2 separate regions of the Homo sapiens genome follow, and region 1 is linked to region 2. A link means that fine-mapping ties the variant in region 2 to the expression of a gene that starts in the linked region. Tissue or cell type: tibial nerve. Region 2 holds a variant in brackets; the other region holds the start of a gene. All regions are shown on one strand. Distances are between the middles of the regions. Region 1 holds the start of NRXN1 (neurexin 1). Region 2 overlaps NRXN1 (neurexin 1).

The links. PIP is the estimated chance that this variant, and not a neighbour inherited with it, causes the effect.
Region 1: it holds the start of NRXN1, and the variant in region 2 is the best candidate, but not a certain one, in a credible set for the expression of NRXN1 in tibial nerve (GTEx, PIP 0.71).

Annotation. Positions count from the first base shown.
Region 1 is chr2:51,030,341-51,034,748 of GRCh38, forward strand. NRXN1 (neurexin 1) reads right to left here and starts at 1,792. Exons shown (of 23, transcript NM_001330078.2): 1 at 1,641-1,792. NRXN1-DT (NRXN1 divergent transcript) reads left to right here and starts at 2,261. Exons shown (of 11, transcript NR_135237.1): 1 at 2,261-2,676.
Region 2 is chr2:50,986,008-50,990,415 of GRCh38, forward strand. All of the region lies in intron 2 of NRXN1 (neurexin 1), which reads right to left. Among named protein-coding and RNA genes, the nearest start is that of NRXN1, 44 kb to the right of the region's middle. The variant C/A (reference allele first, on the strand shown) is at 1,848.

The DNA of each region.
Region 1 (4,408 bases), 44 kb after region 2:
TTTTTCCCTTACAAGCTGAAACTAGCAGTAATTTATGGCACCGCATTGTGCTGCTGCTTCTCCATGGGGGGAGCTGAGAGCATTTCTCTTCAGTACAGAGCAATCCCCACAGGTGTCAGCTGAGAGCCACCAAGCTAGGGTATCCCACTTCAAGTTCCTCCCAGATGAAATTGATGACTGGTTCTCTCTCTTTCAACACACACACACACACACACACACACACACACACACAGTGTGGGTGTGCGCACATACACACTGCCCACTAGCAAAAGGAAATAAAAATCTCAGTTGCTTATTTATTATGGCTGATACATTCCACACCATCAGCAATCACCAGTCATATCTTGTCTTCTCCTATATCAAACCCGAGGAAAGAGGCTCGTCAAATCATCTGAAATAGCATATTATTCAGTATACTTTCATATTTTAAGTGGACTCAGGAATCTGCTAAATTTTCAGTCATTTGCAAAATAAATCTGGAATATCATGATCAAGAGTAGTGCTTTGAACCCTTTCTCAAGCTCATGTGTTAGAAAACCTTTTTTTTTTTCTTGTGTGTGTAACTCTGTTGGAGCCAATTATTGTATTAATTAATGTTACATTGATCACATAACCTTTTTTCTCCCGTCCCTCCTGCCCTCCTCCACTAATGCACACCTTGACAATTTTAAGGGATGGTGGAAGAGAGAAAAACCGTAGAGCAATATATATGTACATATAGATATATATACATTCTTATCACAGGGAGGTTAACTGGTTTTCCCAGTTCTTGGAGGAAGCTCATTGTATGTGAGCGAGTATCTGTATTTATATGGAGAAAAGAGGATTCTCTCTAGGTGCCAGAAAGACCTGGCCAGTTCACAAATTAGAGGATGAAATAAAGGGATCTGAAAAACATCCTTACTGCAGCCAAAAGAAGAAGCGCTCTAATTCAAAAGCAGACTAACAGCATCATTAATCTTTTCTTTCATTTCTAGAATCAAATTCATCCCAAGTCACTAGGAGGATCAATACAGTACGCTCATCGGCTGCAGTTGCATATTTTAATGTTTCTGATATCACACACACATACACACCTACACCTTTCCATGCACCCTTCAATATATATATATATCTTCATAAAGAACATGAAATCTCTGAGAGAAATTTTAGAAGTGCTTATTATTTCACCCCTGGCTTTTGCAAAGTCTCTCAATACCAATGCACAGCCAAAATTCTCTCTGGCTTTCCCGCCCAGTCTCTAAGCTCCATCTCTAATACCAGTGCAGTTTCTTGGAGCTCGGGGTCTACTGCACAAATTAACGATGGGCACAGTGTGGGGCTGATGAGGTAGGGAAGGAAATATATGGAGAGATATTTTATTGCTTTGATATCTAGCCTGTCTCTTATTTTCTTTCTTTTGCTAATACATCACTGCATTCAGCCTTTAAGTTACTACCCCAGTTCCACCATCTCTTCTTGCCATCTATTTAAAAGGCTTCATGCAAAACAACCAAGATCTACACTCCTCCACCCTCCCACCACCCATCTTTCCCTGTGTATTTGTGGCAGATCCTGGCTCAGTTACAATGGGGAAAGATATCCTTCTTCAGCTTGCCTCGCCCCATCCCCTCCCCCCAACCCAAATTGAGCTTCTTTACCTGCCCGGTTATTCCCCTCAGCTCGAGCCAGAGCCTGAAGCATGCATCGGTCAAAGCGAATTTCCTGAGGTCTATGGATAAGGCGACTGCTGCTGCCTTTTCAGAGGCGTCAGGCTTGAGCGTCTATCTCCAGGAGTGCGGGAGGGGAGAACAGGCAACGGAGGGGAGCAGGAGGAGGAGGAGGAGGAGAAGGAGGAGGAGGGGGAGGAGAGGGAAAGAGCTGGGAAGGAAAAGGCGGTGGTGGAGCCTGAGAAGGCTGGGTTACGTGACGCCGGGTGCTGTCCTTCTGAAAGAGAAGGGCGGAGCTGAGCTCTCCGCAGTACCATGGAGAGCGGCGGGCCCGTCCTTTGGCTGGGGAATGGGTGGGCTCGGCCCGTGGTCGCAGCCCCTCCAGGTCTGGATGCTGCGGAGCGAGGTGCTTTTACCTTTGCATCGTCCCCTTGCAGGGGGAGCCTGATCCTGGGGGCGGGGACCTTCCGCAAGCGCTTCTAACTTGTCACCACCCTCTCTTCCCCATCGGAAAGAAAGAAAGAGAGAGAGAGAGAGAGAGAGAGAGAGAGAGAGAGAGAGAGAACGAACGAACACGAACCAGAGAACCACGTAGCCTACTGAGCATGCCCAGGCCCCTGCTAGACCCATGGAAAGCTGTATGGAGATTCCACTTCTCCGGGGTTTGGTAGTGATTGGGCGGGGATACCTGAGAGGGTGCCAGGAAAGGGTCCAGCAGTCAAAGAGAAGGGGCCAAGGAGTCGATAATTATGATGAGCTCTGGCTTTACTTGTGCACCTTGGTCTCCTGCTCGGAACCCTTGAAAAGAAGCTGCAGCTTTTCGAGGAATGCAGGGGCAAGCAAGACTCACACAGGCACTGGCATTCTTCTAGATCCGATGTCCCTTGCCCCACCCCTTACTGTGGCTCTGCCTTGGGTAATCACAACAAATCTTCATGACTTGCCTAGGCTGTGCCAAAAAGATGTAAAAGGAACCCACCAGGGTAAGATGCCAACTTGCAGACGACGATCAACTGTGTCTGACAAGGTGCTTTTTACTGCAGCCTGTCGTCATTCTCCAGCCTTCTGTGCTCTGTCTTGAACCAAGTTTTCTACCTGTTTAACTCTTCCCTCCGTCTCCTCCTCCCTTTTGCAGCTGGTAAAACCTGGTGAAAGTAAAACTGGGTGTGAGGCTCTAACCATGCAACTGGGCATGCCCAATAGGCATTGCTGGGTTTGGTGAGAAAGGGGTTAAATCTAAGGGAGCTTACAGATTAGGTGGTAGAGGAGTTCGGGGTCTGTGGCTTTAAATTATGGTTTGCACCCTATGGACATTTAAATTCCTATTCCTGTATATTCCTAGCCTGGGTTAGTTTTGGAGCAGATACAGACATTTTTATTGCAACGCCACAGACCTAATAGTCTGAACCTCAAATACTGTAAGGCAAGACTATTTTTGGCCTCCAGGCCCTATAGAGCAAGAATTTAAGAACTAGATAAATTTGGGAACATCAAAATAATATATATTACAATTACAATATGTATATTCTTCCAAAAAACTAGAACTCATTCCTATGATAAGCCGATTTATACTTTCACTACTTTTGTAAAAGGGTCTAAATAACCTGAAGGCGGGTATCACAGGTTTTAATATGTTTATCGCCCTTAGAGAGGCAGTTTTGTCAAGTGGTTACATGTTTGGGAAATAGATTGTCTGAGCTTCAATTCAATCTCTGCCATTTATTAGTTGTAACCTCAGCAAGATACTTAATCTTATGCTGCCTCAGTCACCTCATCTGTAAAATGGATATAATAATAGCTCCCTCTTCATGTGTTTGATGTTGTGAAGATGAAATGAATAAATAAACATAACATATTTGGAATTGTGGATTCCAAATTGTGGAATTTTGGCTATATTTATCAACTACAACCCACTCTGTGTTCTGTTTGACTCAATGGAAGGAATTTCTCTGAAACTCGAATTCTTTGACTATAAAATAGAGGTATTAGTCATTGTCAGCTTATTCCATAAGATTGCTTTGGGAATGTAATGAAATAATAGCTGTTAACATGATTCTTAAAACAAAAATTTAATTTTAAATGATGTAAAACTAAGACTCAGAAAATTACTTATCTAAATTATTCATTCAGTGAACTTGAAACAAAAAAACAGTCTAGTTAATTCAGGGCCTTTTTCAATTTTTCCTACCATTAGGTTATAGGACAAATAGTACAGAAGGTACACCGCGATGTGTTTAGTATAGAGCTAAAGCTTATTGCAAAAGTAAGTGGAATGGACAGCCCACTTTCAAAAATCAAGTCTAACTTGGTTCCATGATGCTCTTAAGATCTGGTGTGAACATGCATCAGTGAACATTATGGTAGTGCTAGAGGCACTCTTAAGAGTCAAAGCACTGCCTTTTACCTGGATTCATAAAAACTCATTATTTACCACCAGTGCATGTGATCTGAACAATTTCCTACTTTATTTCATTTCGTCTTTGTGAATTTTTATTTTATCTTTAATTGGGCTACACAGTGTTTCCACTGAATCAAGGTTTTCCTTGAGATGTCTTCTGTGGTGTTTTGATTTAAAAAAAATGTTGACATTCTTATGCTGCATGTGTGAATTTTCAGATTAAAAAGACCAGTGTTCCCACATCTCTTCACCACTGCCTCCCTGACACACACACACAAACTATATAAACTGAAGGAATAGATGATGTATTGGAGTAATCCCCTTTGCAATCAGGTTTAAGGTACTTACTGTATGTAGTCCA
Region 2 (4,408 bases):
AATAAATATATTTAATGACTTCCCATCTCCCCAGTAACTCTGTATTAATAGAGTTAATAAAGATTAATATAGATTAATATAATTAAAGTTAACTTAACATACAGTTAACTTTCATTTCCATAATGGAAATTAAAACAGCAACATAATTCTCTCTCCATGAGACTGGGGCAAGCAAAACATAGTAATATTAAGTCGTGGTGAGGAGAATTAAAACAGAAGCTTTATATACTGGTAATGCAAATATAAATTAGGAGAGACTCTTGTAACGTAAATTGGCAGTAGTTTGCTCTTGGGAATTTCATTTTTATAAATAAAAAATATTCGTAGATGAATAAATGTATCCATGTGTGAGTTAAATATGGACAAACATATACAGAATATCCACTGCAACATTATTTTTTATAGTAAAAAACATTGAAACAACCTAAATATTTACCAACAAGGAATCAGTAAATACATCATCTTCTATGCCAGAAAATACTGCGCAGATTTTTTTTTGAAAACACTGAATATTTCATGTGTTGTTACATTGTGAATACTAAACATTAACATAGTGAGAAAAATATCTAATAAATTTTAAAAAGTTTTTCATTTATATTTTCCATTTCTCCTTCCACTCATATATCGATTTTGCCCTTATGCAAACTACATATCTGTAAAAATATCTAGGTCTTTTTTAAACTTTTTATTAGCATATAAGCTTTTTTATAAATATAATTGCCAAATATTCATATTTTTTTTCCAAAAAATCGAGATAGTGCTATCAAATATCCAAAACATAGGAATGGAAAAAAGCAACTCACAGAAAAAATGCTTATTAGATAATTCTATTTGTTTAAAATAAACACAATTGACATAGATATATATGTATATATGCGTAAATGTACAGAAAGTAAAATTGAAAAACAGCACCCTGAAATCTTAATAGTGCTTTACTTTGTAGAGGATAATGAGAAAGCAGTAGGAATGGAGGACTCTTTTCCATTTCACAATACATTTCTATATGCTATTCATCTTTTACAATAAAAATGCACTTATGTGACTTCTACAACTAAAGGCATTCAGTTATACAAATTAAACAAGAGGAGAAAACTTTTAAAAAACAAAAACTCATTTTTTTCACTGTCAGTCTTAACATTCATTTTATTTGTCATAATTTGAGGTTTTAATAGTTCTTCATATGTTGACTACTTATTAGTAAATAAACAACTTACTATCCAATTTTAAAGATTTTCTATTTAAGTTAGTACAATAATTCAATATAAAATAAAAAAGTATTAACAATAAAATAAAGATTGCACCCCACAAATCTGGATGATGTTGAAGCCATGGTCCTCATTTTCTTCTTCTAGATATTCACTCTGCTATTACATAGAGTCAGGCCAGATTAACATATGATTTGGGAAATGTATGCTCTTTTTCCCACATTCTGGAATTGGAATTTGTGGTGACATATTTTGAACAATTAATGCTCCTAGAAGATCCTGTTACAAACTTAGAACAAAATAATAAATGGGTTATTACATCTGTGTGTGTCTAAAGTTTATTTAGGAAATCAGAATCTTACCAAGAAAAAGGCCTCAAATCAGCGCTTCATGACCACTAAAGTATAACAACCTCCCACTCTACATTCACTTTGTATGAATACACTTAAGGCAGCTTCTAATAAAGGATGCATATGTTCTGTGTTATTTTGGAACATATACTGTCTGTTAGGTTGAAAGAGCTTGTCCATGAATCAATAATAACTTGGAATCTGGACATCTCTTTGGAGATTAATGGATAGCTAAGTAGAGCTATTCACACCAGAGACCACTAACCCCCATTGGTCCCTGTCCAGTTTGTAG[C/A]AGCTGCAGAAAAGGAACACTACGAAACACAGAATTACTTTTTTGGACGTTATTCCAATGATCCTCAGCAAGTGTCTTTTGCAAAAAATCAAAATGGATTAATTTTTTAGGCCAGGTTCACTATATTCTATTCAATTCAGAAAATCCATAAGTCTAAATCCGGATAGCTGCTATTGAAATGTTCATACACTACTCAGGTCTATTCAGGGAACTGGGATAGTTCTGATGCAACAGTGCTTTAATAAGATACAGATTCTTCCATAAGGGTCAGTGATAACTCCAATGTTCAGCTGACAAAAATAAGTCAGGCCTAATTTACCACATGAGTCTTGTCGGCGCTCCTTAGAGTTTATCCTGCCAAATCAATGACTATTCCTGTGGCATAAACCAGATCATTTTCTTTTTAAGGTCTTAGTCATTATTTATTAACTCATCTAGTAAAGTACTCACCTTGAAATAATATAGACTTTAGATGCAAACCATTTACATTTATTTTTTCCCCAAAAAGGGACTTGTGATGAAGTGAACAGTATGGCTTCATGGCTTTTACTACTATGACAAACTAGACAGTTTTGTTTGGACAAATAAGAATGCCAATTTTGTTTGGAAAATCAAACGAGAATGCTGTCTAAAGGTTCTAACCAAGGAGACAATCCATCCGTAAATGACTGTCAAGGTGAGCTAGCCCTAGACCAAACAAGGAAGAGGTTAACAGCTCTAAATCCCCTCTCCTGTTTAAATTCTTATTACCCTTAGGGTATCTAAATCAATGCAACCATGTGTTGTACTGAGATATAATTCCTTGAGATAACTGAGATAAAACAACCGAGATAACTCATTGATATAGCAGAGTATTTACCCTAATGCTCCATGCAGAGAACACAGGCGTTAGCAGCTGCTGTACCTAAGCTTCAAATGGTTTTTCCCCAGTTTATTAGCTGTATGAGGGTGCCTAAATTATGCACCCTGCCTAAAACTTCAGTTTTCCTTTATGCAAAATAGGAATAACAACAGTATCTACTCTACTAGGTGGTTGGGGAGATCAAGTGAGATCACGGACTCCTGCCTTTACCTCTGCTTTATGACAACTTCTCTCCTTGTCTTTCAATTTATTTATTTTCTGCCTTTCCCACTTTTTCCCCCCATATTTTCCCCTATTTTTCTTTTTTAAAAAAAATCCAGGAACTTGCGTCCTGAGAGATATTTTTCTTCTTTTGCTTTGATTCACTGTTTTTAGATATTCTAAATTGGCAAATTTATCCCAATTGGAGGGATAATCAGTGAGAAATAAACAACATAGTAACAGAATATTTTGAAATTTATGAAGGTTTTGTTTTAATGTCTCCAAGAATTTACTAATGACAGTAAAATAAGCAGATTTTGTTCTTATATAAGAATGAAATACATGTGTTCATCTCATTACTATGACTACATTCAATATTTGAGTGAGAATACAATTGTTAAAGTTATTTATGAGATATAATTTACATACAGCAAAAAATTACCCTTATAAGTGGGTAATTATATGAATCTTGACAAACACTTACAGTCAGATAACCACCAATACAATCAAGGTATAAATAATTTCCAACTCTGTTCACCCTTGCCCCTACAACCCAGGCATTTAGCAATCAGCAATTGTTTTCTGTCCCTGTAGTTTTGTGTTTTCCAGAATACCATAATAATAGAATGATATAGCATGTAGACTTCTGAGTTGGTTTCTTGCCCTTAGTGAAAACCATATGAGATTCAGCCATGTTGTTGCCTGTATTCGTATTTTGTTCTTCTTACTGTTGAATACATAAATTGCATGGATGTACCCCAGTCTGTCTATCCACTAAGCAATTGATGGGAATTTGGGTGGTTTCTAAAATTTATCAATTATAAATAAAACCACTCTAAACGTTAGGTACAGGTTTTGATTTCTGGTATGGATGTAGAGAAAAGGACTTACGTTTTCACTTGTCTTTGCTAATATGTAGGAGTAGCATTGCTTGGTAGTATGTTAGACTTTATCAGAACCTGTCAAATGGTTTAATGGTTTTCCCAAAACAACTTTATCATTTCTCATTCACACCAGCAATGCATGAGATTTTTAGTTGCTTGCTCTACATACTTGCCAGTACTTGATATTGTCATTTTTTTAAAAAATTAGCCATTCTAATAAAGGTGTTGTGGTAGCTCATTGTGACTTTAATTTATGTTTACTAATGACTAATGATGTTGAGCATCTTTTGCCTTCCATATATCTTCTGTAGGGAACTGTCTGCTAAAATATTTTGATCTTTTTTACATTGTGTTCATTAACTTATCATTGAATTGTAAGGGTGTTTGTGTATTTAGGATAGGCATGTATTATTCAATATCAATTTGCAAACATTTTCTTCTATCTCTTGAGTTTTCCTTTTATTTCTCAAATGCACCTTTGAAGCCCAGTGCTAAAAAAATCAATTTTTAAGAAGGTAAAAACTTACTTAAATTACTACTTCACATTATTTTTCCCTTTATAAATGTCAATGAAATATTATGGTCATATGTTTTTCAAAGCTTTTAGCTCATTA